Linked DNA regions of Homo sapiens. The protein of the gene in region 3 interacts with the protein of the main gene of each other region in a pairwise test. Each region holds a gene or a part of one and is shown on either strand. Other genes may lie near its edges.

Region 1 (8,168 bases), on a different chromosome or scaffold from region 3:
AGGCAGCATTTCAAAGCTGCCTGCGGGCAGTTGCCATTGTGCCGAGTATGTGTGTGGCTCCAGTGTCAGGTGCATTAAGATGTTTTTGCCCCTAGTCTGAGCAGCAATTTGGAGGAATTTGTTAACAGATGTTTAGGGTTAGATGGACTGCTTGCCTGAGTCTGTCTGAAAGTGTGTTGGTTTGCATGTTTGATTTTTCAGAACCCATTGTCCCTGCCCTTTAGTCTTAACCAGATCATTTCCTGCACATGGCTGTAGAACATACTGGCCTTTTCTGTGTCCTGCATAATATATTCCACTAAATGAAGTGTGCTTTGGCTTTTTGTATTTTGTTTTTTTACAGAGGATTATTTTCTAAAGAGATGTTAGCTTTCTAAGCCAGTTGTTAAAATTCACATCATTTCCTGCTTTGTAGATGTTTAACCCTCAATGCTGCATCCTTGCTTTGCAATAAATTTTCCCAAGTGTTTCAGGCTGTGCCAACATAGTTTTTGCTTCCCCAGACTAAGCAGTCAAGTTACAGTGTTTAACAGTTCAAAAATTTAATGAACTATAAGACACACTAAAAGATGTTTGGATTTTAGATCGTTATAATGTAGTATTCAGGCCTTTTTTAGGCCAAGGATGATCGCTTGGGATTATTTTGTTTTTTGCCAGCCTGGCGTGATGCTGTGCACACCGTCAGTTCTTAATAAACATTGACTTGCCAGATGAAACTTCTTCCTGGTCATTCTACCATATGGAGCTATAATACATTTTTCTGAGAGATAATGGCCCATCAGCCATACTGTTTTAGATGGGAGGGTAAGAAAGATTTGTATGTGAATGGCATTTCATAAGTGCTAGTCAAATTACTGAAGAGAAGTCTCTGAGTCTTTCAAACGCCAGCATCTTCTGACACACTGGGCATTAGCTGCATGCAGAAAACTAGTTAATTCAGGCACTAGGAGTAAAGCACATGATGAAATTAAAAGACCTGACGCCTATCTGTGAGGAGCTCCCCTGTTAGCAGGGGCAGTTGAAAACACGTATGTGCAAAATGATTCCAAATCTGAGCAGCAAAGAAACAGTGGCATAACCTTTTTTTTTTTTTTGGACAATTGAAACTGGAATTTAGGTGGTAAAAACAGCACTAGTGGAGCAGGGCACAATGACACACGCCTGTGATCCCAGCACTTTGGGAGACCAAGGCAGTGGATTGTTCAGGAGTTCACCATCCTGGGTGACATGGTGAGACATTGTCTCTACAAAAAAATATAAAAATTAGCCGGGCGTGGTGGCGTGAGCCTGTGGTCCCAACTACTCTCTGGAGCCTGAGGTGAGAAGATCACTTAAGCCTGGTAGGTCAAGGCTGCTCTCTATCCTGGGTGACAGAGTGAGAGCCTGTCTCAAAAAAAAAAAAAACACGAAACAAACCCCAGCACTACTTGGCAGGAGAGCTTGTGATTGGCAGAAAAGAGAAGGGAACGCTCTCACAGCTGGCGAGGACTTGGCTCCTGCCTATAGTCCACTTTCAGAGCAAAAGTAGAGCCACCAGGATGGGCGTTGGTGTTTCCCTCTACAGTGTGGGTAACAGGGCAGGCCCTGCGCTCAGTACCCACATTCCCAGCTCCACTGGACTTCCAGCTCTGTGATCACTGGACACACTTCCAGCTGTGTGATCTTGGACAAGTTATTCTACCTCTCTGGGCATTTTTTCATCTATAAAATGGGGAGGCCTGTGGACAGATTCCTTGAGCACAGGAGTTGGAGACCAGCCTGAGCAACATGGTGAAACCCTGTCTCTACCAAAAATACAAAAAAGAGAAAGAAAGAAAGAAAAAAGCTGGGCATGGTAGCATGCACCTATGGTCCCAGCTACTCAGAAGGCTGAGGTGGGAGAATTGTTTGAGTCCAGGAGGCTAAGGTTGCAGTGAGCTGAGATCGCGCCACTGCACTCCACCCTGGGTGACAGAGGGAAACCCTGTCTCAAAAAAAAAGAAAATGCAGAAGCACAGCCTCCTCTATCCTTAGTTAACTCTCAGTCTACTTGGAGAGGTAAACTATAGATAAAATAGCTAAAGGACACGAGCAAACATTTAACACTGCATTAAGGGGAAGCCATGGAAAGGAACATTTGGAACCAGCTAGGTTAGTGAGTAGTCAGAGAAAGCCTTTAGGAGACACCCAATGAGGTCTTGAAGGAATAGCTTTTCCTAAGAGGAGATCATGATACAGAGACAAGTATCGTTGGAATGAACGATACTTGTGGAGTGGAACTCATTTGGAGAGTGACAGATCTGAGGAAGTTCCTCTTCTGTGTGGACAGAGGCCACCCCAGGCCTTTGCTTTGCTTTTTCTTATCCATTAGGGTCCGCTGATTCTTTCACCAGCCCCTCCGGCTGTTCTGGCTTGGCCTTGGCCAAAAGACAGAGCAGTGAGACCCCAGGAACTGACTGATAAGCAAAGTTAATCAAGTGCCTGTGTTTCTTTCACAGGACTCTGACACCACCATACCAATGGACGAATCACTGCAGTTTAACTCCTCCCTCCAGAAAGTTCACAACGGCATGGATGACCTCATTTTAGATGGGCACAATATTTTAGATGGACTGAGGACCCAGAGACTGACCTTGAAGGTGGGGTCCCTGCTGGGGGACAGAGAGAAGGCCTCTTGTTTTAGCCTCATCCAACAGTTTAGTAACTGTGTTTATATTTTGATTACGTGTCCTCAAATTGTGATATTTTGATGACAAGACAGAGCCCTTGAGTTTGGGATCCTTTCTGTTGGAGTTGAGTTATTGTGAGCCTGAAAGTACCCAGTTCCTTTGCCAGTGCTTGAAACAAACCATGAAGTGGCCTCTCTTAGGATCCAGGTCTTTTCCCATTTACTGAACTTATCATGAAAGTGAGTGCTACTACGAGGGGTCCAATCACAGGCTGAGAAATTGTGTTACAGAATCTACTCTTGGAAGAATGAAGACGTGGCTGTCCTTTGGTACCTCGCTTTAAGGTGGCTTTCCCTTAGGACCCCTACTGTGGACTGCCTTATAACTAAAACCTTTTGTATTTTAGTAACTGAATCCCCACTGTGCAGTGTTAGGGCTGCCTGGTTGTTTGCAGTAGATTAGAGCTTTAGAAGCTTCTAGAGCTTCTAAAGCCCGTGCTGGTGATCCCAGCGACTCTTCACTCCCTAGCCTTAGGTATTCCTAGAAGCCCTGACCAGTTGGCACTGCTGAGACTCCAGCCCCTGGGAGTGGTTTACAGAAACATTACACAGACTCTGATGTCAGTCATGATGTTTCAGCCTCTGCCCTTTTCCTGTATCAACCCTGATGGATAATAGGGCGTGGGTTCTGTCTGTTATCAGGGTGTGGTCCCCTGTGAATGAAGCACTCCCAGCCACTGAGCTGTGAGAAACAGTCACTCGGAAGTGTGAGCTTTATCTTAGTTTTTGTTGGATCATGTTGAGTCTGTCAGCTCCACAGGACTTCAGTACGTTTCTGAACAGTCCCTGCCATCTCTACGGGGGAGAGGGTCAGGCAAGCTGCAAGTGACACTCACCTCCTGCTGACAGTTGCAGTGTCTCAGATGGCCTGGAAGGGTGGTCTCCAGCAGCCTGCTGGGCGCTCCCCTTTCATGAGAGCCACCTGCAGTGACCTGAACTGATACATGTTGATTAGTCTGCCCTTTCTTTAGAAAACTGCTACTCTCCTTTTCATATCTCAGAAAAACAGTAGAGGCCTTTTAGGACCAAACTCCATGTCACACTGATGAAGAGCCAGTGGGGGTTAGAGCGTCCTGTTAAGGCACATGCTAACTTCCCACTCAAGTCTGGCAGCGCTGGGGCATCAGCACACCTCTTGCCACCCACACTGATACCAGAGGGGAAGGCTGTGAGGTGGCTGGGGGTTGAGACTTGAGGTTTCTAACTTTCCTCTGCACACCTGTGGCTACCTGGTGTTTGTCTCTTGATTCCCTCCACCTGCCTCACACCCTGCCTCCGTCGGGATTTTCCACCTACACCATTCAAAAGGAACATAGGAGAGGGCATGAAGGGGCTAGGCTGAAGCACTCTGATGACTGGGGCCAATTTGTGGCTGAAAATGAATACATTTTTTGAAATTTATGGTCATTTTCAAGTGATTTAGAAGGTTGATCCTTAGCCTCATACAGTGATGAAATAATCTGTGTGTTCAGAGCCAAGCAGGACTTTAGCAAGAGTCTGATTGTATTGTCACTATCTCGGGGAAAAAAAAATACAAATACATTTCTCTGATCTCTGATGGCAATGAAGTTTGACTTGTAATTTCTCTGGCTGAGGCTTCTTAATTGCTTTCTGGGCAGAATGTAGATTTTGGATTCCTGTCCATGATGCCTAATGTTGATCTCACTTTCCTTGTTTCTCTCAGTTGCTCATTAATGTGTATTTATTAAAAAAAAAAAAAAAGGATATGGGGCATGAGGTTAGATGCCATGCATATAAGTTGCAGTGGGTGATATGTGCTGAGTGACTTGGGGTCTGCCCCGGCATTCACTTATACTTGTTTCTTACTAAGAAATTGAATGTGCTTTAAGCTGAAAATTAGAAAGCAGTAGGGAAGGACAGGCTGGATGGTTTGGGTTGTTGGTTTAGGAATAAAATGCCCTTTTGTTTTGGTGGTGGGTGATGCCATCTATAGAAGGGTTTTAGGTCATTGTGTTGGTGTCTTTCCGTCTTTCCCACTTGAGACCCTCTTGTAAATATGGACTTGACCCACCCATTGTACTCAGAAGAAACCTCAAAGATTGTACTCTACAAAGTAAATAGGTTGGTATCAATGATTATTGGAACTAGAGAGCCGAGGACAAGTTTTTTGATGTTGCCTTCTTTTTATAGTATAAAATATTCTAATTTTAAGTATTTTTGTTGAGATATAATTTACAGACAGTAAGGTATACAGATCATATTTTTACAATTCAGTGAATTTGGGCAATTGTATCAGCCTTTGTAACTCACACTCCCATCAAGGCCCGGACCATTTCACCTCTGAAAGATCCCTCGTACCCCTTCCCAGTCAGTTGACCCCTCTGCCCCAGGCAGCCACTGTTGTGATTTATTTCACCATAGATGAGGTTTTCTTGTTATTGAACTTCATATAAAGGTATTCATGCTACTCTTTTCTATGTGGCTTCTTCCTCCCAGTATGTTTCCAAGGTTCATTCATATTGTTACCTATTTAATTCCATGTTGGTAGTCAGGTACTTTTTATTGCAAAGCAGTATTCCATTGGTACAGGTTTACCATAGTTTGTTCATTCATCTTGTGATTAGTGACACCATTGTTTTCAGTATGTATTTATTTATGTATTTTTTGAGACAGGGCCTCCTTCTGCCACCCAGGCTGGAGTGCAGTGGTGTGATCTTGGCTTACTGCAGCCTCGAACTCCTGGGCTCAAGTGGTTCTGTCACCTTAGCCTCGCAAGTAGCTAGAACCACAGGTGCACACCACCACACCTGGCTAATTTTTTTTTGTAGAGAAGGGGTCTTCACTACGTGCCCAGGCTGATCTCGAAATCCTGGCCTCAAGTAATCCTCCCACCCACCCCTCCCAGAGTGCTGGGATTACAGGGATGAGTCCCTGCGCCTGGCCTGTTTGCAGTTTTTAGATATTCTCCTGTGTTTTTTTCTAGAAGCTTTAATTGTGGCTTTAGCTTTTATGTTTAATTCTATGAACCATCTCAAATTAATTTTTATGTATAATGTGAATTGAGGTTCAATTTTTACACACATATCTGTAAGAGAGATACATATATATAAAATACATACCTGTGATATTATATAGTCAGTCGTTCCAGCACCATTTGTGGAAAAGACTTTTCTTTCCACTTAGCGTTGCTCTGGTACCTTGATCAAAAATCAGTCGACGACATGAGAGTGGCTCTATTTCTGGCTGATATTGCTTTCTGTGTATTCTGGGCATGACCAAGAGAATGTCTGTTGGCAAAGCTCCATCTCCTGATGCCATTCACCCACTCTTGGTAAAGCGACTTGATGTTTGTTTTTTTTTCTGTTCTCTTCTGCCCCAGGGGACTCAGAAGAAGATCCTTGACATTGCCAACATGCTGGGCTTGTCCAACACAGTGATGCGGCTCATCGAGAAGCGGGCTTTCCAGGACAAGTACTTTATGATAGGTGGGATGCTGCTGACCTGTGTGGTCATGTTCCTCGTGGTGCAGTACCTGACATGAGCCAGCCACGCTCAGTGGCTGAACAGCATTCCCACAGCCTGCAAGTGTGTGTGTGTGTGAAAGAGAGAGGGGGGCCCAGAGGCCGCCTTTTGAAATGTTTGCCTGTCTGAACTGTGAAGACACTTGGGAGTGATTGTGGTCTAATTTCCAACCTGCTCTGTTTTCTGTGACATCTTGGAGGGGGAGCTAGTGCCACCACCATGCGCGGTGCTTAGGAAATGAAAGAAGTCCCGGGTCTGTCTCTCTCACTCTCGCTCTCACTGGGGGAGGGAAAGAATGGCTTTGGTGGCTTTGTTCACATAGCTGATGCGTGCCCTGGGAAGGTGTCCACAGTGAGCCCTGTGTGCAGGACTGTCCACACGGTTCACACCTTGTCACCATCAGGCCTTTCTGGCTCCTGATAGGGTGGAGCAAAAGTGGAAAGGAAAGGAAAGAGGCCTTTTCTCACAGCCATTATATTAAATAGTAGGTCGATTCACATCCTCGTGCTCCTGGCCACCCTCCCCTGTGCCTCAGTGACATGTAGATGACTGACTGCCAATACTTGTCACCATTCCCTGGAAGCAGCTACCTAGGGGAAACAAGATGTAGTGCTATTGCCGATAACAAGTAAGATTTTCCACACTACAGCTGGGTGTTTCTCTTTTCTAAAGTGAGGCCAGTGTTATTTCCCGGGAGTGTTCAGTCTTGACCCTAGTCACTGATTTTTTCTAGTTGTTAATAGAGTGGTTGGCTTTTAAGGTTCAGAGACTGTGGCTTGGCACCTGCGCCCAGGCTTTGTGGGCCTTTGCCCCTTAGAAAGTAGCTGTAGGCAAAGATTTGTGATTTTCCAATTACAGTCTCAGCTCTAGTTTTAGTATCTCTAATTCTTTGGTTCCCTTCTCTTCCCTGAAATATATTAGCACCTGCCAGCCAGGCCCTCATTTTGCCCAGCCAGTGTGGGCAGATCCCACCGTGGAGACATCTGTAGTGTGTATGTCCTTGTAACACTCTGTTTTCAGGGACTACAACCTTTTTCCTTCTGTGACCAGCCCCGGATTCAGGCTGTACTAATACCAGGTATATTGTGGAATTTAGTATAAAGGCCAATCTGTCCTGAAGTCCATCTAATGTGGTGAATCACTGAAAGTCTCAGAAAGACCTGGTTAGTGTATGTTCTCATTTACCACAGGCCTACCAGCCCTGGGCACAGCAGCTTCATGGCAAGACATAAAATGACACTCAAAATCCTTCAGATCTGGAAACCGGCTCAGTATTAACCCTACCTTTGGTTGTCCTGCCCTACCTGCTCTGTTAGTTTCTTGTTGCTTGAACTGTCTTCTGTCTTATTTCCCTTCCTTTCTGTGTTCCTCTTCACCTCTCTTGTTCCCCTCCCCGCTGCTCTGTAGTCATGTTGGTCCTTTCAGGCACCTCTGTGGCATAGCTCCCCTTTGGTAAGTTTTCTTAATTGTCATAGATTAACTGAGTTTCCTGGATGCTAATTTCACACTTTCGGTTGGAGGAGATCTCCATTGTTCCTACCCCTCCGGGCCAAATGGGCCCCAGGTTTCCAAGGAAGGAGCAATCTGTGACTCCTAAAATGGGTTGGGGCCCTGCCAGAGTTAAAGCAGTGACTGGAGGGTGGACTGGGGGGTTGCAGCATCTTTAGACCTAGATCTGTCTAACTCTGGGGAGGCACATTGACATTTCCATTACACACAGCACTGCTGCGGTGCCAGGGACCTAGCGCAGGACTTTTGGTAATCCATAAAATGGATTCTGAGACTGCGACGGCAAGGCTGTCCTGTCCCCCAGGCACCCAAGGATCCTGCCAGACAGCACACTTTGGAGGAAGGTCTGCAGGGAGCAGCTGAGCCATTTGTTCTTGAACTCTGGGAGGCAGAAGTCCCCGCACCCATCATGCGTGGACTGATAGGACATCTTTTCGTGGTGTGCACCAGTGCTTTCCACACTTGACAG
Region 2 (8,168 bases), on a different chromosome or scaffold from region 3:
CTCAGTTGGCTTTTTGTGTGATAGCTGTGATTAAAACTTCTGAATGTCAGGCATTTTACATGTATTATAATGCAATCCTCAATGTTTTACAGATGAGAAAACTGAGCTTTTGAAGAAAACGGCCAAAAGTCACAGAGCTTCAAAGGGGTTGAGCCAAAATCCAAATTCAGGGCCATCTGAATAACCAATATTTTTGTTATTACATGCATGCATGCATTCATTCACTTATTTATTTAATAAATCGGGTCTTGCTCTGTTGCCCAGACTGGAGTACAGCAGTGTGACTACAGCTCACTGCAGCCTCTTAACTCCTAGGCTCAAACCATCTTCCTGCCTCAGCTTCCCATGTAGCTTACATTTATTTTTATCAGACTACACTGACACTTTTCTTTGAGGTTAATATTATATGGGACTAAATCAATTCAAAATTTCCTCAAAGGGCTATAAATTAAGGAAAAAGAACCCCATTATTTTATGATCAGTTTATTCCTTTCACTTTAAAAATGCCTTCCCTTACTTAAATATCTAAAACCTAGTCTCTCTTAAGTTCTAACATAAGGATTTCCAACACCTCCAAGAAGTCTTTTGTGCTATGCCAGGCTGCACTGACTCTATCATGGACATTATTATGTATAGGCTAGATGGTACAGAGTATTAAGATATATGAGCAATACCTCTATTATGTGTAGGCCACTGTACTTACTGTGGGATTCAAAGCAATCCATGCACTTATAAATTCTTTGGAGAGACAAAATAAAACATATATACATTTTTTTATTTGTCAATTATACCTCAGTAAAGCTGGGGAAAAAAGGAGGAGGCATTTCAGGTAGGAGATATGATTTGAACTGATTTGAACAAAGACAGAAATAGGACTACACATGAAATATTCAAGAAATGCTGCTTAGAAGGCCAGGTAGGAGTTGGGTGGGGATAAAATATTTACATCAAGGGAAAAGGAGGTAAGAACTATTTTCTGGAAGGCCCAGAACATCAGATAGGAGAAAGAAATTAGATACCAGATACAGGTTACATGCTATCCAGGTAGATTATTATCTCATTTATTTCTTACAGCATTAGGATTGAATTAGGTATCACTAGCTAGAATTTTATATATGAGCAAACCAAGCTGGCTGAGTGATATATATAGGACTCCACCCAGGTCTATCCTATAATGAAAGCCTGACCTACTTTTTTCGAAACCATACTCTTTCCCAAGGAGTCTGAATATCTTAATAGGATAGGTGGCCAGTGAAATTCTTCTCATTATCTAAATCATTGCTTAAGGAGATTAATCTGACAGTGCAATATAGAATATGATTATGTATTTTGTGTCCTTATATGAAACCTAAGGACGGGAGCTGGAATACATTTGACCTGTATATCCTAAATGTCTAGGTGCACTGATTAGCATGTAATATTGTCTCCGTATATGTACTGACTGAAGTGAAAATTAGTTTATTATCAACTTGTTAAAAATTTTGTCTATATTTTATGTTCTATCCGAGGTGCTACTTATTGATAGAAGTTTGCAACAAAATATGTTTCTAATTCCAATTCAATCTGATGAAAAGATATCTTCCTCTTATCCAATCCTCCTCATACCTAAAAATTTCTGCCACTTACAGAATTATTGGAGAAATTGTGAAAAACTTCCGTGAAGATGTAAACTGTACTCCATAGTCCAGTTGTTCCCAATGAGTTAGGAGCCTTGCTTTACCCTGGTCAGGAGTTTCGAAAGGTGTTCCTTTCACTGCATGCAAAAATACGTACATCCCCTGGAAAACAAGCAAGGGGTTATAAATGATCAATATTAAATACAAAATTAGTCTTTGTCAGTAGCATTAACGAGGTTCCAAGCTGTTTGTGAGAGTGTGTGATTTAACTGAGTTCGTTTTAAGCTTTCATATAATAGTGAAAGGCTGTAGCCAGTTTCTTTATAATAAAATAGAACTTTCTGGGGTATAAAAATATTAAGTGAGAATTGGTAAAAGGTCAACTGAAAGTAACCTGTTTGCATTTCTATTCGTTAAACTAAAAATAATTATCAGGGTAGCTTCATATCTTTACATTCAGATTTTCTTACACTTTTCCTATTAGGAAATAGGATTACTTTTTCCCCAATGTACAGGAGGTTTTTCTTCAGGGTATATTAGTAAATTTGATGATACTTAAAAAATGATAAAGACATACAAAGTGGTAGAAAACAATAAAATGATTAAAATCTATTGGGAAAAATAGTTTTGAGATATTTAATATGATGACTGCCTTTGCCTTAATAGTTCTCTTCCAAAGCAATAAAAATAGTTTGATATAATAGGTATAATGTTCCACTCAATTCCCTTTTTAAATCGCTATTGTGCCTCAATAGCATTTCTTCTGAAGTCAGTTTTAAAAACTCAAAGCAAATAACATTACTAAAAGCCATTCTGTCAGATCATATGTCTAAACATATAATTTTTTTTATCAATAGGGTAGAAAAAAACCAATCTATAGATTTGGTTTCCTTGAGATTATGATACCCATTTAGACTCATAGGCAGTGTTTCATTCAGGATCACTGCTTGAGGCACTTTATGTAAAGGGATAATGCCTAAATATTATCATGACACAAAGTTTTTCCTTCTAGACGCCACAATGTGATGTCATTTTTCCTACCTCTACTTTTAATGATTATATAGAAAAATTAGGGATTTGAAATTTTATATGATACCAACTTAACCAAGCCCTTCCTTTCAAGGCTTAGTCTACTTCCTAGTTATTCCAGTAGGCAATTCAGAAGTCGTTTAGCTACAATAACACGTAAGCTATGGAGGAAAGGACTCATGTTCAATTGGATTTAACCCATCAAACATTTAATAGGTGGCTTATATGTACAAGACATAGGACATATATGCACATATGAAATTGAATGAGATGTACCCAAGCCTTGGAAAAATTCAATCCTCCAAGAGATGATAAGGAAAAAAAATGCATAAACAGCTAGAAAGTAGGGCAGAAATTGCTATCAAAGGTACAATCAGAATACTCAGCAAATGGCAGGGGAGGGAAAGGTTCCTTGTTGCTGTGCCAAAAGTCTTGATGCTACTTCATTACCTCATTCTTAAAGGTTCAGCTCAAATAACAATTCCTTAGAAAAACCTACCTCATTAGTAATAATTAATCTCCTCTTTATGTAGTTGTATACAATTTTATTGAAAATACGATTACAGTACAATATATCATGTTAGAGTTGTTTGCATGATGTTTGTTTTCCCATTAGCCTGAATACACTCGGAATAAGCACTGGGACACCGCAAGACATTAGACATTGGACACTTCCAACATTAGAAATGTTGGAAGATGACATTACGCCAAGGAGTATTTATTCTGTAAGCTCTACGAAACCATTTTCATATGGACTTTAAAGTGAATTATAAAACAGAAAGTATATGTTTTCAAATCATCGGGGGTATAGGACCCCCAAAAAGTTAAGAACATCTATTCCAGACCACATAGATATTAGAATATAAGAGAATAATCATCCTCTCATTATTTCCTTCAAACCATATGTACTTAACTAGTGTTTAGAATATCAAAACAGTTTATTTTATACATCTTTTCAGTGAAAAATAATAAAATCTTATCTGGCCATATATCTACTGCCCCAATATTTTTTAAATTGTTTTTATGTAAAAATGTTTGTGATTATTATTCCTCCATTAAAAGAATTAGAGAACAAAAGTATGTAGCTCATGCTTAGTCCTTACTAAATACCTACTGAATCAAAATGAATCATTCATTTTTAAAGCTGGGCCAAGAATCCTGTGAAGCATTAATACCTCTAAGGGTGAGGTAGCACTTAATAAAGCAACCACTGTAGGTTTCTACTGTACGGTTCAGAAAGGCAAATATACTGTATTTTTCTAACCGGGTGTAACAATTAGGTCCATTTTCTCATTTTTAAAGGCATTCAATATGTACTTCAGATTTTTAATTGGTTTAATGTGGCTATATTCAAAGGAAACTTAAATTTGGAGTCATGTAATTGCAACTCCGATGGCTAATTAAGTTTTTAGTGTGGTGAACTAATAACAAATAAATCAGAAGTTTGCTTTTCTATACAATGTCAATTACCAATCATTTGTCCATGGTCAACCAACTTGAAACACGGTTAGGGGGTGGTGGTGGTACAGGGATGGCATCTAAACCGTGGTGGCTCACACTCAGCACTTTGGGAGGCCGAGGCGGGCAGATCACCTGAGGTTGGGAGTTCGAGACCAGCCTGACCAACATGGTGAAACCCTGTCTGTACTAAAAATACAAAAATTAGCCAGGCATGGTGGTGCACACCTGTAATCCCAGCGACTCAGGAGGCTGAGGCAGGAGAATCGCTTGAACCCAGGAGGGGGAGGTTGCAGTGAGCCAAGATCGTGCCACTGTACTCCAGCCTGGGTGACAGAGTGAAACTCCGTCTCAAAAAAAAAGGACTAACTTATTCGGCAAACATTTAAATACGTTCTTAGCGATACAAAAATTAAAACATAAAGAGATAAACTGCTAATTATAAAACAATGACAAACACATGATAAAAGAATGCAGCATGGGAGTTGTGTAGATTCCTGGAGGGACAGTTTTGCTGTAGGAAATCAGGCAGAGCAGGAAGGAGGGAGAGGTATTAAAATAGTAGAGACTGGGCCGGGCATGGTAGCTCACACCTGTAATCCCAGCATTTTGGAAGGCCAAGGCAGGTGGATCACCTGAGGTCAGGAGTTCAAGTCCAGCCCGGCCAACATGTTGAAACCCCATCTGTACTAAAAATACAAAAATTAGCCAGGTGTAGTGGCACATGCCTGTAGTCCCATCTGTTCAGGACGCTGAGGCAGGAGAATTGCTTGAACCTGGGAGGTGCAGGTTGCAGTGAGCCAAGATTGCGCCACTGCACTCCAGCCTGGATGACACAGAGAGACTCCATCTCAAAAAAAATAAAAGTAGACCCTGAGTACTATGGCTCACTCATGCTTTGGGAGGCTGAGACAGGAGGATCACTTGAGGTCAGGAGTTTGAGACTAGACTGGGTAACACAGCAAGACCCCCATCTCAATCAGTCAATCAGCTGAGCATGGTGGCACACACCTATAGTCCTAGCTACTTGGAAGGCTGAGGCAGGAAGATCACTTGAGACCAGGAGTTCGAGGCTGCAGTGAGCTATGATCATGCCACTGCACTCCAGCCTGGGTAACAGAGTGAGACCCTGTCTCTGTAAGAAAAACAAAATGGCTGGGCATGCTGGCTCATGCCTGTAATCCCAGCACTTTTGGAGGATGGTGCAGAAGGACTGCTTGAGGCCAGGAGTTCAAGACCAGCCTGGGCAACATAGTGAGAGCCTATCACTATTAAAATAAAAACAAATTAGCCGGGTGTGGTGGCATGTGCCTGCAGTCCTCAAATTTATTGGGAAGCTAAGGTGGGAGGAGCTATGATCACGCCAGTCTCTTAAAAACAAAAGAGTACTTGGTCCAGGTGAAAAGAAAATATAGTAGAAAAGCTTAAGCCAAAACAATAAAATGAGAGCAAGATGATTTTCTTTATTGCTAGTGTATAGCCTCTATTTAGAGATGGTTGAGACAAGGTGAAGTCTCCTTGTTTCTGCACTGTTATCAACTGGTCTTATATGTCACACAAGAAACTTGGATTTTACCATGACTGCAATGGATGATCACTGAATGACTTAGAGTATGACTTGAGCAAACATGCATTTTTAAAACATCACTCTGCCAAGCTGGAATGGAGAAGGGTAGAGAAGCATCAAGAAGACTATTTGATTTATCTGAGTAATTTACTTGAGGAAAAAATGAGGGTATGGGGATCAAGTTGAGAGTAAAGCAGTAGAAGACAGTGCTCTGAGCAAATGGATATGGAATATAAAGGAAAAGAAGTTATCCTAAGACTTAGGTGACCTTGTATTCTTGTTTGCATACGATGGTTCTGATTATACCTAATCTCTTGTAGTAGTTATTACCAAAGCTCCATTTTACTCTCTAAACAGCCTGTTTGGACTATACATTACAGGTTGAGTATTCCTTATCCACAATGCTTTGGAGCAGAAGTGTTTCAGATTTTGGATTGTTTTGGATTTTGGAATATCGGCATATACATAATGAGATATCTTGGGGACAGGGCCCAAGTCTAAACATGAAATTCATTTATGTTTCATATACATCATACACACACAGCCTAAAGATAATTTTATATAGTATCTTTAATAATTTTGTGCATGAAATAAAGTTTTGATTGCATTTTAATTGCAACCTGTCAGGAAGTCAGGTATGGAATTTTCCGCTTGTGGCACAACACTGGTGCTAAAAAAGTTTCTAATTTTAGAACATTTTCTATTTTGGGTTTCTGATTAGGGATGCTCAACCTGTATATTAATTGCTTTACCATTAACATTCAGCTGTCTGGCTTGGCCTTTAGATAAGATTAGTAGTGAAGCCAGAGGATCAGATTGTGGGTGGTAAGGGAGTAATCAGGAATAAGATAAGTTCCATTTATACTTGTTTGGTTTAAGGTGCAAAGTAATCTGGTGATAAAAATAAATAGGAGCATCCTTATTCTACAGGTAGAAACTGAAAATATGGGTAGATGAAGTAACCTAGGTAGAATACATAGCATAAGAAGAGATGAAGAAAAGAACCTTGGGAATAGAAATATTTAAGAGAGGAAAAGAGAAGGAAGACCCCATAAGAAGAAAGAGAAGGTCAGAAATATATGCCGGTGAAAGTGATCCTATAGAAGCCAAAGGAAGTTTCAACAAAAGTGAGATGATTAGTGTAAAATATTTCAGAGAAGTCACTATTTAAAAGAAAACATCGTTTGCTCTTACAAAGTCTATCACATAAAATGGACTAAATGGACACATATTTATCATGTCTACCAGCACATCATTCTTATCCTCCTCCAGTCAACTTCAAATATACTCCAGAAGATAGAAAATAAATATTATTGTTATTATTTGAGGCAGGGTCTCACTGTCACCCAGGCTGGAGTGCAGTGGCACGATCTTGGCTCACTGCAACCTCCACCTCCCAGGCTCAAGCGATTCTCCTACCTCAGCCTCCCGAATAGCTGGGACTATAGATGTGCTGCCACCATGCCAGGCTAAGGTTTTGTATTTTTTGTAGAGACAGAATTTCAGGCTTCACCATGTTGCCCAGGCTGGTCTTGAAATCCTGAGCTCAAGTGATCTGTCCACCTCAGCCTCCCAAAGCACTGGGATTACAGGCATGAGCCACCGTGACTGGCCAAAATAAATATTAATTTTTAAAAATCAATTTCTCCTGTTTTCCTGTCTTAATGCTTTAAGTTCATTTTAAAAAATATCTTTCAACAAATGTACTGCTAAACTGGATTCAATTAAAATCCTCAACTAACTGTATTTCCTCCTTTTCACGTTACTTTAATGGGTTATTAAAGACAAGAAAAGTCGCTGTCAAGATTTTTTGTTTTTGTAAAAGGCAATTTCCAGGGCTGCATAATATGGTCAGTACAGTCAATCAAAACTTTGATACTCTGTAGAGCTAACACAAGAGAGTAACAAGCAGCAGCTAAGGCACCATAAGATCCTGAATCACATAAGATGATTAAGTTCAAAACTTAAATACTGAAACAGTGAAGTATACTTACACTATTTAGATAGATAAGTTAACAAGGATTGAAACTAAAATGATCTATTTTCTAGATTCTATACAATGAGAAAAAAAAAAGTCTTACTTAGAAAAAGGACCAATGTTGAAATAAAGCGTGAAAGAAAAAAGAAAATTCTATCCCAGATTAGAATTCTTCAAAATTAAGTCTTATATACTAAAAACTACTAAACTATACACTTTAAATGGGTGGATTTTATTGCATGTGAATTATATCTCAAAAAAGCTGTTAAAAAAACTAAGTTGTATACAACACAAAACCTTAAGCTTCTTTAAAAACTATGTTTAAACACACATGTCATAAAGTTTACCATCTTAGACACTTTTTTTTTTTTTTTGAGACGAAATCTCACTCTGTCACCTAGGCTGGAGTACAGTGGAATGATCTCGGCTCATTGCAACCTCTGCCTCCCAGGTTCAAGCGATTCTCCTGCCTCAGCCTCCCGAGTAGCTGGGACTACAGGCATGCGCCACCATGCCCGGC
Region 3 (8,168 bases):
GCTTTAAGTCAATTATCTGTTTTGGGGGACAAAATAGGGTATAAATTTTTTTAAAGTGTAAAATACTCTAGAGAGGGAAGATTTTGATTAATGCTTTTGAGTCCCCCTGAAGTCCACAGCAGCAGTTGAGCTATGACCTACTGAAGGTGCCTCAGCAAGCTGGCTTCAATCAGACCTGGAACAAGGGCAGGTCTGAAATAAGTTTTATCTGTTAAATTTAATTAATATTATTAAAGATTAAAACATTACAGTACATGAATGTTACAGCAGCTTTATGCACAACTGTCAAAACTTTAAAGCAAGTAAGGTGTCGTTCAGTGGGTGAATGGATAAACTGGCAAATCCAAACAAATGCCAAAAACAAAATGAGCTATCAAGCCATGAAAGAACCTTAAATGCATATTATTAATTGAAAGAAACCAATCTGAAAAGGCTACATACTGTATGAAAAAAGGTAAAACTATGGAGACAATAAAGAGATCAGTGGTTGCCAGGGGTTGGTGGTGGAGGGAGAGATAAACAGGCATAGCATAAGGGATTTTTGCAGTGAAAATTCACTGTGTGATACTGTAAGGGTTGATACATGTTATCATGTCATCATACGTTTGTCCAAACCCATAGAATGTACAACACTAAGCATGAACCCTAATGTAAACTGTGGACTTTATGTTAAGATAATTTGTCAATGTAGGTTCATCAGTTGTAAAAATTTCCCACCCTCGTGGGAGATGTTGATAGTGGAGGAGGCTATGCATGTATGGGGATAGGGGATATATGGGAAATCTCTATATCTTACTCTCAATTTTGCTGTGAACCTAAAACTGTTCTAGAAAAATAGTCTATTTAAAAAAAAAAAAAAAAAAAACAGGCTGGGCACAGTGGCTCACGCCTGTAATCCCAGCATTTTGGGAGACCGAGGCGGGTGGATCACTTGAGGTCAGGAGTTCGAGACCAACCTGGCCAACACGGTGAAACCCTGTCTCTACTAAAAATACAAAAATTGGCTGGGCATGGTAGTGCACGCCTGTAATCCCAGCTACTCGGGAGGCTGAGACAGGAGAATCGCTTGAACTCAGAAGGTAGAGGTTGCAGTGAGCCAAGATCGTGCCATTGCACTCCAGCCTGGTGGACAAGAGCAAAACTCCGTCTCAAAAAAAAAAAAAGATAAATTATGTTTCTGCTAATTCTGGTTAATTCTCAAGAAAAAAAAATTTCCACAGTAATTATCTTACTATAAATCATTGCATTAAAGGTGCCCTGTTTACTAATTATATGCCAGCACCTACATTTGTAACTAGAAGCAAGTTCACATGTTTTTTCCTCTGCAGTGGTTTCCTCAAAATATCTTTAGACAAATCTCCATCTTTGATTTTCCTGGTATTGAAAGGCTACTAGCCACTCACTACTCACCTGCCTGAGATAGAGAAAAAAACTTGAATACTGTCCAGCTTCAGGAAGGTATGAAAGAAACACGGTGATGCAGATTAGTAAGACAGTAGAATCTTTTCCAACTTTCTTCAACGACTGAGAATAAGCAGAAAGAACACACTTAAAATGCCAATACACATTAATGTTGCCAATGTTCTGGGACATCAGCTTCATTATTTTGATCTATTAAGATGAATAACAAAAGTCAAATGGTTAATAAAAGGAAGTTCTATCACCATCTTTCTGAGGAAGTTACAAGTCTTAATTTCAGAGGTATATATTTCAAATCATATAGCTAAAAAAAAAAGCAAAAAAATAAACCCACAAAACACACTTACTCATCTTTGTTAACACACTGATTAAAATCCCTGAACAGATCCCGAACTTCCTATAAACAGAACCTGGAAATATATTCCTACAGAACCTTTTAAGAAAATCACTTCTCTCAATTCATAATGTAACTTCTTTAAAGCCATATTCAGTACAGAGCGTTTCCGTATAGGTAAATTCACTCTATTCTTCAAAGTGTTCATGTTCAACTTTTATATCTGGTAGACAAATAAGTACGCTCCAGCCATAAGGTCAAACTGGTAAGAACTTGTTGAATGTTACAACCTTGTTGAAAAATCCTTCTTACATACATTGGATTGTTGAATAGAACAAAATGGTAAGTTAATACCAAAGGAGTGGAAAGTGCTACAGAGCTTCTAGCTCATCAGACCATAGCTTTTATGTAATTAATAAGCAAAAGCAGCTAATGTTGTTGAGACTTTGCTGGGCAACAGACACTAGGCTAGTTAATTTACACACATTAACAGTAATCCCCACGATTGCCCGGAAAAGTAAGCCACAGTAGCTCTACTTCACAGAGGAGCTTTGATGCATAACTTGATCACTACAAAGGAAGGTGGGAAGCCTAACTGGCTGGCTCCCAACCCCACTACTGGCTTCCTTCTCTAAATATTTCTTTTGGTGTCTGACATTGTGACAATAATAGAACAGGCAGGATCCCTAGGTCATGCCCTCAGGGGGTATTTTAGAAAAAGTAATTTCTGATTGATTACATGAATTTTTCTGAAAGGTAAACTTGGGGGACGAAAAGCAGAAACCAAACTGCTGGTTCTTTTTTTGTCTACAAACTTTTTTTTTCCCCAAGAACAATTTCAAACCAGGTAGGGTAGAGAGAAGGTGAGAGATAAGATATGTTTTCCAGTGACACACCACCTTCCCATGCCAAAAAAGAAGGGGGTGGAAAAGGAGAGGAAAGGGAGGGAGGTAGAGAGGGAGAGAGAGACATATTATAGAAAACAATACTCAATCTGTAACAAACAAATTAAACGTCTCTGGTCAAAATTAAAATAACTCATTCAAACCAAAGGCATTTATCCTTTTTGAGTTAAAATGAGTGAAAATGACCACTTCAAATGACCACTTTCACTTATTTTGTTTAAAAAGGATGAAAACAACCATGCAAAAAGAAACTCTCTTCCCAAACTCTCACCAAGAATTAACTAGACATTTTCTCTCTCTTCGTTTATGACATGCTTAAGTACCAATTCTATATATTTCTTAATACAAAGACTAACTCAATCCCTTACTTGCAATTAATTTTTTCTATTTTTACTAAAGAAATAAGTCAACAACTGCTAGGATCCTTGAGGCTGCACATACATACTTTCATTTGCTTGGCTTAGAAAGACATTTAGGAAAGTAAATATTTCCATATTTTTATTTACCGCAAAAGGGTCTGCTTGTTTCCAAGAAATCTGAGCTCCCCAGGAAACCGGTCTCATTTTCTCAGGCAGAGATTCTGGAACAGCCACTAAGATGAAGCAGATGTCCAGAAGAGCCACCACTGTGGCCACCAGCACAACGAGGCTGTCTCCGTAACTGGCAGAAAGATATGCTCCAATGGCCGGGCTGCTGACAAGACTAGCCGCAAAGGTGGCTGAGACCTGTGGGAAAGCACACTCTCACCCAGGGTCCCATAGGTGAACACCTCTGGGGAAAGCATATCCTTACCCAGGTCTGCCTGCTGCAGGTGCACACCTTCAGGAAAGCACACTCAACCAGGGTCCCACAGGTGCATACCTGCAGCCATGCTTCCCTGGCTTTAAGTAAGACAAAAGAAATGTGTTGCATATAAATTTTAAGAATGAAAGAGAATTAAAGTGATTTAAGAATGTGTTCATAAACTATTAACTGGAGATACCCTGCAGAGCTACAAGAGTAAAAAAGGATTATCTTATTACAAACAAAAATTGTAAAAACCTTCCCCACAAATAAAACATTAGCTCTTTGGTCTTCTTTAACTGGGGACCGGGGATGTGAGATGGTATGAAAAGAATTCCTGCAGGGCTGATGATAAAACTTACAAACTACTCAAGTACTGTGCTTGATTTAATCTTCTAAAAACACTGCACTGTTTGAACATTTTATCATTTGGTGGTCATTTCATTAGCACTGCCTGGGGTCAGGGGGAACCCTCTGCTATTCTTAGAAAAAAACTATTAACAACAACAAAGAATTTGTTGAGGTGGAAGTTGAAGCTTTTTGACTAGACAGCTGTAGATTTCTGTCTCTCTGTCACCACCTGACCCTATCCAGTATAGAGACCACAGAGCCAGCTAAGCACACCCACAACCTGAAGCCACCTTGAGCCCCTTCACAGTGCACTCCTATAAGCATGTGGAATGTCCACTTTATTTTAGAACACAATCTGGATGGTCAGATGCTTATCGGGCAAACTCCAAATTATAACCACACTAAATGTCAAATGCATATCTATAAGTTAGCTTTTTAAACTTCTAATGGATTTTATTAAAAATCCCAAAATTTCTGGCAATAAAAAATTCTTTTTCATCCATCATCTCCCAACTGAATTAAAAAACACAGTATATCTGAAATTAGTATTATACTAAAAGTACTATAAAAGCTAAAACTCAAGTATTTTTGGAGGGGAAAAAAGAATGTGGAAAATTCCAATGTGGGGAATAGGAATCCTTTGTTCAATATTTACTGAGAATCTACTATGTACCAGATGAAGAAGACAAAGCTCTTGCCCTCAGGTTTTCCCACTTTATTCAAGAATATCAGGGCAACCAAATAACTGCATTATAAACTGCAACGACAAGCAAACAGTTATGGGAACATTCCTACACTCTTCTCAGGTGTTAAGGGGGCACTGCTGCAGCATCTTCAGGTGTTAAAGGGTCTATGGCCTCATGAAACTCTATGCAAAATGTGTCTATCTTAAAGCCTAAAGTAGCCTACTTGCTTAGTCTGTGTTTTTATCTAAACTCCTCTTTCACTTAACATTCAATACAACTCTGATGAATAAATCTAAAGAATGACTTCCCCACAACAAACTCTTAGTAAGTGTTAACTCACTTATTAACATGACTAATCATTGCCGTAGCCCTGAAAGAATTACCACTTTCTTGGTTTACTGAAGAAGTCTGAGTAAGGAAGGTGTACACATTTTTATACTGTTCTTTAATGGGTCTCAAAATGCTCCTTAGAACTTGACTGACACGTTCTGTAATTAATTGGCAATAAATTCTCCTATATCTAGAAGATAGGTAGACTGCAATCCAGGCAGCCTTGCATGCTGAGTTGCTTCTGCTGGCTGGGAGCACACTTCAGCTAAGTGCCGTCTCAGTCTGGATGTGTGCGCTCACTGATTGCTCTCAATGCCCCTGTGAGTAGATATTAACCCTAACTGCCATTATACAATGAGGAGCTGAGCTGGAGAGGGTAATTAAGTCACAGGCGCTTCTGGTTAGAACTCTCTTAAATCTTTCCTGAAAGCACTACTGCTCAGCACAACAGCTGTGTGAAGGGTTTCCCAGCTGAAAGCGAGAAACAAAAATCAAATATTGCAGAAAAATGAGTATCTCAACAGGTATTTCCCATGCTGTAGAAGAAAGCTGTCCCTCACTACTCTGTTGGCCAAGCCTTATGGGCACAACTTGAACAACCTACCTTCTTGTTTTTGTTTTTTCTTTTCTTTTTTTTGGCAGGGCGGGGGGAGGTTGTTAATTTTTGGAGTTTTGGGGGACATTTTTTTTTTTGAGGCGGGTCTGACCGTCGCCAGCCTGGAGTGTAGTGGCGCGATCTTGGCTCACTGCAACCTCTGCCTCCTGGGTTCAAGCAATTCTCCTGCCTCAGCCTCCCAGGTAGCTGAGATTACAAGCGCACACCACCACGCTCGGCTAATTTTTGTATTTTAGTAGAGACGGGGTTTCACCATGTTGGCCAGGATGGTCTCGATTTCTTGACCTCATGATCCGCCCCCACCTCAGCCTCTCAAAGTGCTGAGATTACAGGCGTGAGCCACCGCACCCGGCCTATTTTTGTTTTTGGTGTTCCTGAGTGAGCTCCAAATCTTGTCTTCTTCGAAGCTTTCCTATCAGCTTCTATCTTTGTCCTCCTCCATCACGACTCTGAAGATGCCCCTTTTTAGGGCATGACATGAGAGGGACATTCAGGAGTGGAGGGAAGAAGCAAGGAGAGAGAGAGAGGGAAGGTAGAAGAGTCAGAGGGAAGTGGGGTTGAAAGAGTAGTTTTCAAACTACTGATGTCTAAAGTCAACAAGTTAAAAATTGTTGTGTTTTGTGGAATAGTAGTAACCCATTTATATGCCCATCATTGATTCAGGAAGTTATTCATTCAGTCAGCAATGAATGAGAACTTACTCTACTCCAGGAAGTAGATTTAAAAGACCCAGGAAAAGGAGATAAATAACCTAAGTTTCTGGCATTCAATCTCCCTCCAACCTATTCCCCACAACCTAGCCAGATCATCTTTCTTCTTCCACTTTCTTATTCTGAATATTTTCAAATACAGAGGAAGACGGGAGAAGGGTACCAAGCATACTTCCATGTCTCACAGGTTCAGGCATGGAACACACATGCCCACACATGCACATCCACATGCTATGCTATCTTTTCCCCTGAAACATCTGAAAGTAACTGGCAGAGTCCTGACACTGATGTAAAACGCTTCAGCTATCTTCTAACAAGTCTTTCTTCTACATAATCATAATGCCATTATCATGCCTGAGAAAATCAGAAACACTGTCAGGTTTTAATTATCAGAAAAAAAGGTCTCCTATAACTTTTGTTATTCAGCAACTATGGATTTGATGAATGAGTGAATGTAGTCCTTTTCTACATACCATGTTCCAAATGTATGTCCAAAACACACAACCACTAATAGAGTTAACAATGGATTAACATTGCTGAGGTTCAGCACCTCTCCAAATTAGGTGCACAAAGAGCTTGTGCAACTTGACTGCTTAACGCTCCTCCGGGGATCAGATAACAAGAAACAAATCAAACTAATTTTTTAAAAAATTCAAATGTTCAATTGTAATCCCCAATGTTGAAGGTGGGGCCTGGTGGGAGGTGATTGGATCATGGGGGTAGTTTCTCATGAATGGCTTAGCACCACCTTCCTTGGTTGTTAATAGTAAGTGAGTTCTTGTGAGATCTGGCCGTTTAAAAGTGTGTAGCACCTCCCCCTTCACTCTCTCTTCCTCCTGCTCCAGTCATGTGAAGATGCCTGCTCTGGCTCTGCCTTCCATCATCATGAGTAAAAGCTCCCTGAGGCCTCCCCAGAAGCAGAAGCCTCTATGCCTCCTTTATAGCCTGCAGAACTGTGAGACAATTAAACCTCTTTTCTTTATAAATTACCCAGTCTCAGATATTTCTTTACAGCAGTGCAAGAAAGGACTAATAAACTCACTTTCCAGTAAATTTCTAATACAATGTTAATTACTATTCTGGTTAAAAAATATATATAGTCTATTATCTTACCCATCCATAAGCTGTACTTCGCTCGTGCTCCTGAGTGACATCAGCTACATAGGCAAATATAACAGAAAACGTGACCGAGAAGACTCCAGACACAGAAATCATCGCAAAATACCACCTATAAAAAGATTATTTTAATGACCCAAGGGAAAGGGAGTGTATGTTCACTTTCATTACCTGAGCCAAAGACATCATGTAAAGATTACGCACCAAGAAATAAGTATACTTGTATATGTATGTATACTTAAATATATCAAAAAAAATTTAAGTTAAGACAGGAAGAAGTAGAAACATTCTAATTTCATCATTGTTCAAAGGGGGTCAGTACATGCCCCCTAAAAAAACAAAAGAAGAGGAAAAACAAAGAATAAGGGGATTAGGTAAAAGTTATATTTTTAAAGGTAGCCAACAGACAGAAAAAAAACTTCTCAAATATCCTAGCTGTAAGTAAGGAAAAGACATACAACAAATGATTTGAAAAGATCTACATAAAAGCAGAAGTCATAATGAAAAATATTAGTGTACTTAAGACTAAAAATTTATATCATGTGATAGATGCTTTTTTTAAAAACCCAGTTTAAAATTAACAAAGAAAAACCTTATAGAACAAAAAGTGGGGTTTACTCCAGGATAGAAAAATATTTTAATATTTAAAAATCTATTAATATAATTATTCATTTTAGTAGCTCTAAAGAGAAAAGGTGGGCGGATCACGAGGTCAGGAGATTGAGACCATCCTGGCTAACATGGTGAAACCCTGTCTCTACTAAAAATGCAAAAACTTAGCCGGGCGTGGTGGTGGGCGCCTGTAGTCCCAGCTACTCAGGAGGCTGAGGCAGGAGAATGGTGTGAACCCGGGAGGCGGAGCTTGCAGTGAGCCAAGATCGCGCCACTGCACTCCAGCCTGGGCGACAGAGAGAGACT
Region 4 (8,168 bases), on a different chromosome or scaffold from region 3:
AAGCACCCAGCTCCCACCCGAGCTTCAGATCCGCAGGCTCAATTCAAGAGCCCAGAGGCACATGTCAGTGCCTCGGACCGTGGTCCAAGGGGAGTCCTGGGGCTGGGGGCCTTCCCCGGGCCGCGCCGCACTCCCGGCTCACAGCACGCTCGCCGCCTCCAGGGACAGATCACCTCTGGGGGAGCCCCACTCAGGGCGTAAATACATTTGGTTCACTGTGAGATTCTGGGGGTACTGACAGCGGCAAACACTGTCCTAGGGAAGTCACGTGACATGAGGGCAAAGATGGTGACGGCAGCACTGGTTATAAGAAAAGAAAATGAAAACAGCCGAAAACGGCTCAAAACAGGGACATGACGAAGGAAGGGACACTGTATAGTGAGCAGGTTTACAAGATGCTTCCGGGATAAGCAGGAGGGAAAAGGCAGAAATGTCCACATAACCACAGCTGCGGCCAAATCCTCAGAATTATATAACAGCACGAAACATTAAAGAGGATTTTAAATCTGAGAGTCTAAGTGTTTTTCTCTACTTTTTTGCATTTTCAAAATTCTGTACCTGAACATCTAATTCCTTTTAAAACTAGGGGAAGTTTTGTGTAAAACAGTGAAAACGGCAAGACCCTGTCTCAAAAAAAAAGAAATAAAATTGAAAATACTCAAGAATATAGCTCCCCAAACCCACCAAACATCTGGGTACACCCAAGCTGGGTACAGCCCCAAGTGCCCAGGAGCAGGCCGCACGCCCTGGATGCACCCACACACCCACAGCCAGGGCTCCTGGGGCTCCCGAAATCATGCTGCCCCTCGGAGTGGGGCCAGGGGATGTCCCTGAGAAAGCCTGGGTAACAGGGACTCCTTGTTTCCTTGGTGAAGAAAGCCTTGAGGGAAGCGCTAGCACGGAAGGGTCAGCTACTAACCCTGCCTGGAAGGCCATGCTTCCTCACAGAGCTTCCAAAATACAGAACACAGTCCGTCGTCAAAGTTCTCACCAGCAACGAACACCCAAGAAAACACATCGCGCATCTCATCTGCAGCAAGGTAAGGCACTGCCAGATATAACTGAGCAAGACAGTACTGATCACTGCCTCGAACCCTATCTGTGCCGGAGTAGGAAGGGAGAACGATAGTACACCAAGGCAATAACCCCAGGTACACTTTTTCCTCTAAGACTCACTCCGCTTTCACAACAATGCTGAAGGCCGCTCTGTAAAGCCCATTCAATAGCTGTTAACAGAAAAGTCATCTTAGGCTGGACACAGTATCTCACACCTATAGTCCCAGTATTTTGGGAGGATCACTTGAGCCCTGGAGTTCAAGACCACCCTGGGCAACACAGGGAGACCCCGTCTCTACAAAAAAAACTTTTTTAAAAAAGAAGAAAAAGTGATCTTACACTAAATTATCAGGCTGATCAGCCGCTAATGCTACACTGCTCCGGCACCAGTTAGCTCAGGACTAATGCTAGGAAAGGCACAGGGTGTAATTTCCGGCAGGTAGTGAGTGTCTAATGAGGAAGACACCTCAGAGTCACAGCCACAGTGGCCACATGGCCTTAGATGGCCCCGTGGGTAACTCCTGAGTCCCACACAGCATGCAAATATTAAAACCCACTCACTGTCCAACCAGCAACCACGAGGAAAGACCAGCCAGTAGCTGGCTCACTGCCACCCCTTCCAATGGTCCCTCCCTCCTCTCTAGGCTGCAGCCACCAGGGAGCCCTTCCTCCTTTCCGGTGTATCCCTGATGGCAGGCAGGGAGGGACAGGAGGCCCCCGCTGCCTGTCCCACTCGGCGCCTCCCCCGCTCAGCTGAGTGTCCAGCCCATGTGCTTGTGGATGTTCCCACCCACAGTTTCTTGGTTTTTTTGTTTCGCTTTTTTGTTTTTTTTAAAGCAGGAAACACCCTTAAAGCCCGACTTTTCTCTGAGGTGCTCAATTACATTTAAAACCGTTTCCTGTACAAACAGATCACAAATACTTTTACAACTGCACATTCTCCTTCCAGCTTACCTGTGAGCTGTTTTTCTCTCCAATGCTATGGGTATCTGTTTCAGAAGCTCTGTTGGTATCTTGTGGTGTCTGCGAGCGAGGTGGGCTTGGCGATGTGAATAGAATGGGAAAAACAGAACATCATGTGAACATTCTATCATTAGAAGCTCAAACCCCAAAGGCAGTGAACCGCCTCCGTGATGAGGGGCTCTAGCCAGTCAGCGTACGCGTCTTCCCTTCCACCCAGCACCTGCCAGAGCCAAACTCTTCCTCAGCCCTTTTGGCTGAGCACGACAGGAGTGAGCTAGCCAGTCTTCCAGAGAAGACGCAGGGGCAACTGGCAAGCAGCTGGCTTTGTCACCTGCCGCCTTCACGGTCTGGGTCTGTTGCACAGCTCTCAAGGGCACGCGACCTTTGACCACTGTCGGCCACTCTACCTTGGAGTCACTCAGAAGTACTGCTAACCAGGGACCGCTCCTCCTGCGACCACAGCCCCGCTGAGGCGCGTGAGTGCGTTTCTCAGAGTGGGGTTTGTGGCTGTTCCGCTGCCTACTGATGACTTGAACATGGCTCCCCACAGACTAAGTCCCAGGTCACTGCATCCCCAAAGAGGGCGAGGCTCCTATATAAGGACGGACTGCAGCAGGAGCCAGTCCAGAACGCGGCCCGAGGCGAACAGCAGCCCACTGTCCTAGAGGTGACACGGGCACTTCCAGCTGTGACTGTCACCCACTGAAGACATCGGCACTGTAACACATACACTTGTTGATGCGCGCCTACCTGTCACAGTGAGAGCTCTTGGAGCTACTCCGTCCAGACTCATGCTGTGCGTCCAGCAGTATTTTTTCCATGTCTCCATTATAAATAGAAACCGAGGCTGGAACGCTGCCCCCGTTCCCATTATTGCTGAAGTGCAGTTCTACCCAGGAGCCTGATGGGGACAAAAAAAGGGGCGCAGATGGAATTCTCTACCCACTCTGGAATCTGCTCTTGATATCTAACCAGCCTGCCCTTCCATTTCCAAGAGGTAGCAATGGTGCCACACCAGGAACCATCCCTCAACCCCGACTTGAAGACATCCCTCTGCCCACTCTCATGGCAGTGACTGTCCACGCACACACTCCCTGGGTACAGGAAGGAAGCCCCCTGGGGCTGAGACCATGTATCTGTCCAGCTCTTGCAGTCCCTTTATACCAAGCCAATGTCCAATAACTCTGCTGAGTCAACAGAATCCAATTAGAATACTTCCTTGCAGTGAGCTTTTATAAGAAAAAGGCTATTATTTGGAAAAAGAGGTCTTTAAAAAAAACAACAACAACACTAATGTCAACATAAGCTTAAGGGATTTGAAGTTTTCTTTAAAAGGTTTAAGCTCTATTTTTTGTTTCTTTTCGAGACGGAGTCTCGCTTTGTCACCCAGGCTGGGGTGCAGTGGCACGATGAAGGCTCACTATAATCTCAAACTCCTGGGTTCAGGCCATCCTCTAGCTGACACCTCCGGAATAACTGGAACTACAGGCATGCACCACTACTCCTGGCTATTTTTTTTAGGAGATGGGGTCTCGCTATATTGCCCAGGCTAGTCTCGAACTTCTGGGCCCAAGCAGTCCTCTCACCTCAGCTTCCCAGTGTGCTGGGATTACAGGCGTGAGCCACCATGCCCAGCCTCTATGACTTGCATCGTGTGGCTTACTTTGCATTTATATAATTTCTAACGAGGTTGAAGACGGTTTTACAAGTTTGCTAGCCATCTGGATAGCATCTTTTTTGAACTGGTTCTTCGAATCTCTTATTCTTTTCTATTATCTGTCTTTCTCTTATTTGTGGGCATCCAGCAGTATTTTTTCCATGTCACCATTATAAATAGAAACTGAGGCTGGAACGCTGCTCCCGTTCCCTTACTGCTAAAAGTGCAATTCTGGGATAATTCTGTATTCTAGATATATGTTTTTCTGCATTTAAATATGTTGCAAGTAACTTTCCCTCGGTAGCTTGTTCTTTTCACTTCTGATGTCTTCTGATGTACAGAAGTTCTTGATTTTAATTCAGTCAAATGCAGCAATCCCTTCCTGAGCTGAGATATTCTATTCTATTATTTTCACACAGCTCTACTGTTATGACAGTCACATTTAGATCCAAAATCTACATGGATTAATTTTCCCATTGATGTGAGACGGATGCCCCATTTACTGCAGACAGCTCCCGCCTCACTCTGCGCTGGCTGCTTCCTGTGTCAGAAATCAAGCGTGCATATAGGCACACGTCTATTTCTGGGCCCCAGATAATCTCTCTACTTTGTGTCATAGGTTTATTTATTTAAAGCAAATCTGGTAGGAGCTTCCTCTGGTAGCGTATGGAGGATGGAGTGCAGTGGGAGGAAAGTGCAGGCCACAAAAGACAGGGAAACTTATGGACGAGAACAATGGAATTATCTCATTTTTGCAGTCACTATAATTTTAGTAAGCAGAATAATCACCCTGAGCTGCTGACTGTCCTTAAACCAACACAGCACTAATAACACCATGCAATTAGGGGGAAAGGAGCAGCCTCTTCATCCGTCATGTTCGCTGGAAGCAAAGGCAGGTGCACAGCTTTCCACACACACGAGGCATCTCTCCTGAAAGAGGGCTGGCCTAGGCTCCATACGCCACTTGTTGCAGAGTCTATTTCATATTAACCAGAAAAAAGCAAACCGAAGGCCCAGGAAGGAAAAGTGGATTTGCAACTTATGCCATCAACAGTCTCCCAGTAAGCTGCTAACGAAATGATCACACAAATTTTCAAATGAACGCATGATTGTTCTCTTTGGCCTCTCACGTTGCCTCATGTCCTGGCCTACACGAAGCACATCCCTAATACAAAGGCAAGCCAGGGTCTGTCTCGGAGCCTGGAGCTCAATGGAGGAGAAAGGCCCAGGCCAGTCTGCCCCACACTCTGGCAGAGGCTACATGGTGCCTTCTGAGATGTACAGACCACACCATTCCTGAAGCCGCTCATCTGACCAGACAGTATTGCCAAGTACTCTGATGTTCACTAGCCCTCCTTCCCTCTCTGCGGTTCAAGATGCCATGCGGCCGGCTAGCCATGGCCTGCCCCTGAGAGAACGGCACCACAGCCTCTGTTTTGGCCAGCTGTCTTTCTCCGCTGAATCTACAGTATTCAGATTCTGGGCCTGCTTCAATTTACTTGACTAAAGTGTTGTTCAGCTATCTGACGATATGGAACACAAATGCAACTTGAAGGTGTGGTGTCTCTTCTCTGATGCCACTCTTAACATCAAATGTGGGACACCAAGTCACCACCACCGGGGTGTCCAACGATTCAATTCCATTCTATCTACCTAGACTTAGTGTGGAGCCCACAAGACTGTTCCCACAGATGCAAGCAGAGAATGGGGTGTCCAGGTTACCCGTATTTCTGCCAGTGCCTCTACCTACTCAGGGGATCCCACACACCTGCCTCAGGTTCAGTAATTTACTACAATTCACAGAACTCAGAAAAACTCTTTACTTACATTTATCAGTTTACCAGAAACAATTCCAGGGCAGACAAATGGAAATGACATACAGCCCAGATCCCCACCTACCCCACACGTCCCAACCCTAACCCCAACCACACTCTCTGCAACCAGACTCCCACTTACCCCACATGTCCCAACCCTAACCCCAACCATGCTACCCGCACCTCATGGCTCCCCCATCTCCATCTCCAGTCCCCTCCCCTCCTAGGAGGGGCTGCCCTGGGAATTTCTACCTCAAGTAACTATCCTGGGGCCACCCTTGAGCCACTGTATTAGCAGTGTATTCTGAAGGGGCTCCTTACAACTTACACCAAAAATGGTTAACCAAGGAGCACTTTTGGAGTACACTGCTAATAGGGTGACTTTATGAATAACGCACACACTGGTCAGGTTGTTCTGCCTATGGAGTCACCATCTTTTTACTGTTTTACTTTCTTTAATAAACATGCTTAAGACACTTATTGGCACAGCGGTTCATGCCTGTAATCCCAGCACTTTGGGAGGCCGAGGCGGGCAGATCATCTGAGGTCAGGAGTCAGAGACCAGCCTGACCAACATGGTGAAACCCCGTCTCTACTAAAAATACAAAATTAGCTGGGCGTGGTGGGCGCCTGTAATCCCAGCTACTCGGGAAGCTGAGGCAGAAGAATCCCTTGAACCTGAGAGGGGGAGGTTGCAGTGAGCCGAGATCATGCCACTGCCCCCCAGCCTGGGCAACAATAGCGAAACTCTGTGTCTCAAACAAAAAAAAAAGACACTGCTCAGGAAGCCCCAGGGGTTTAGGTGCTCTGCACCAGGAAGTAGGTAGGGTCAAGACCAAACACATACTGTAATCTATCACACAAGGGGCAGGCTGAAGACAACAGGGAGAGGAAGATGAAGGAGAGACAAGTGTATCTCTGTCATCCTCTGCGCTACTGCAACAGAATCCCACAGACTTAGTGATTTACGAACAGAAACTGATCTCTGTTCTGGAGGCTGGGAAGTCCAAGATCCACGCACCAACATCTGGTGTCGGCTGAGGGCCTTCCTGCCTCATCCCTTCAATGAGGCTACAGAGGGACCCACCTCCCTCCATCCAGCCCCTTAGAGCACTAATCCCATTCACTAGAGAGGAGCCCCTATGGCCGAGCCACCTCTTAAAGGCCCACCTTTTACTACCATCCCACTGGCAACATGGAGGAACACATTCGAACCAAAGCAGTGCTTTTTAAACATCACCCCAGAAAGGACCTAAAAATCCAGGAAACAAGGAAAAAAAACTCACTCCAGATTGTCCATGGCTAATGACTTTGGGCCCAAAAGCTGTATTCCCAGGAATGATTTACTAAGGGACAGGAGTTTTATTATTAACCCACAGCAACCGCGTAGGAAAGGAAGGCACTTCCTGGAGAATGGAGCGTGCTGTGTATCTACTCACGTGTTACAGTTCTCCACTCGGATCGTTCACCTTTTCAAAGAAAGATGGGCTTACAGTAAGGTTGCTTAATAACCTTAGAAAACTTGCTCATAATCACAAGCAGTTTACACTTCAAATCACTGTAGTATAATTAGGCCCCAGACGGAAAGGTGCTGCTGTTGCTGCTGCAAGAAAAGCCCTCCTTCCTAATCTCATTTCGCGTCCCTCTCATGTTCCTCCCCCTCCTCACTCACTTATAATTTACATTGCTAACAAGACACACAGCCAGTAAATCTTACCTCCCTCCTATATCAAGGTAGATGAGATTTTGAAAAGCCTAGACTATAAATATTTATATCACAGTACAAAAAGAAAACTGATAGGTCTGCCTCAGAGACAAAATACAGTCCAACAAGAGTTCTTAATCCATTTCTTATTCTCACTTTGTGTAAAAAAAAAAAAAAAAAATCATCTGACATCCAGCTTTTCTAGGTGCCCAAAGCAGTTCTCCCTCCAGTGACAGACTCCAGGGAATCCCTTCGATTCACTGCCCTCTGTATGTCCCAGGGCAACTCCCTGGGTCCCATTCCTCAACATGGATTCATGGGCCACAGCCACGAGCCCCACGTGGAGTAAACACAGGGCCAAGTTCTCAAGGCCACCCTATGCCCTAACCTGGGGTGACAACCTCAACTCTGGCTATGAAGGGAGAATCACCTGTGGTGTTTTTTCATTGTTCTCCAAAAGCCTAGCCTCAGCCCACTCTGAAAGTGACTATTTGGGATGCTGGGGTGGAATCCAGGCAAATAGATTGAAAAAGCTCTGGGATAAATGTCAGAACAGAGGGAGGCAGCATCCCAGAAAAAAAACCTGAAGCAGAGGAGCTGTGAACCCCCGAGGGAACTAGCACCCCAAAACCATACAAAGGGCTTCTTCCCCAGGGGAGGTGGGCTCTAAGAAATTGCTGTTTTACCTTTAAAGCTTCTCAGGTTAGTGGGGAGAGAACAAAAGAGACCCGCCTGACAAAAGATTTCAAGTATCAAGTCAGCTGGGTAGGTAAATCAGGTCCCTGGCTTCCAACGGGGCTCGTTTCCCTCCACCTTCCTGTTGCCTCCAGGACCTCTGGCCTCCTCTCCTCCAGGACCCTCCAGGGCCTATTGCACGCAGCCTCAGGCATCTGGGCTCCAGGTATCCCACTGCTGCCTCATGCAGAGACCTTGGCTTCTCCTTAAGTGTTGTTGCCAGCCTTATCTTTCACTC

What was found.
Region 1: the proteins of SLC71A2 (region 3) and GOSR2 interact in binary tests that used the Homo sapiens proteins (3 or more experiments, as listed by UniProt).
Region 2: the proteins of SLC71A2 (region 3) and ORMDL1 interact in binary tests that used the Homo sapiens proteins (3 or more experiments, as listed by UniProt).
Region 4: the proteins of SLC71A2 (region 3) and BNIP3 interact in binary tests that used the Homo sapiens proteins (3 or more experiments, as listed by UniProt).

The regions. Positions count from the first base shown.
Region 1 is NC_000017.11:46,932,552-46,940,719, forward strand, and holds part of GOSR2 (Golgi SNAP receptor complex member 2), read left to right. Parts: intron 1-2,477; coding exon 2,478-2,618; coding exon of another isoform or gene 2,619-2,729; exon of another isoform or gene 2,730-4,271; intron 4,272-6,047; coding exon 6,048-6,209; 3' UTR 6,210-8,003; coding exon of another isoform or gene 8,004-8,062; 3' UTR 8,063-8,168. UniProt on the Homo sapiens protein: Involved in transport of proteins from the cis/medial-Golgi to the trans-Golgi network.
Region 2 is NC_000002.12:189,773,939-189,782,106, forward strand, and holds part of ORMDL1 (ORM1-like protein 1), read right to left. Parts: intron 1,779-8,168; coding exon 1,627-1,778; intron 177-1,626; coding exon of another isoform or gene 167-176; exon of another isoform or gene 1-166. UniProt on the Homo sapiens protein: Plays an essential role in the homeostatic regulation of sphingolipid de novo biosynthesis by modulating the activity of the serine palmitoyltransferase (SPT) in response to ceramide levels.
Region 3 is NC_000009.12:94,440,179-94,448,346, reverse strand, and holds part of SLC71A2 (hippocampus abundant transcript-like protein 1), read right to left. Parts: intron 7,363-8,168; coding exon 7,248-7,362; intron 3,384-7,247; coding exon 3,165-3,383; intron 1,525-3,164; coding exon 1,411-1,524; intron 1-1,410.
Region 4 is NC_000010.11:131,971,024-131,979,191, forward strand, and holds part of BNIP3 (BCL2/adenovirus E1B 19 kDa protein-interacting protein 3), read right to left. Parts: intron 2,921-8,168; coding exon 2,770-2,920; intron 2,096-2,769; coding exon 2,011-2,095; intron 511-2,010; exon of another isoform or gene 1-510. UniProt on the Homo sapiens protein: Apoptosis-inducing protein that can overcome BCL2 suppression. May play a role in repartitioning calcium between the two major intracellular calcium stores in association with BCL2.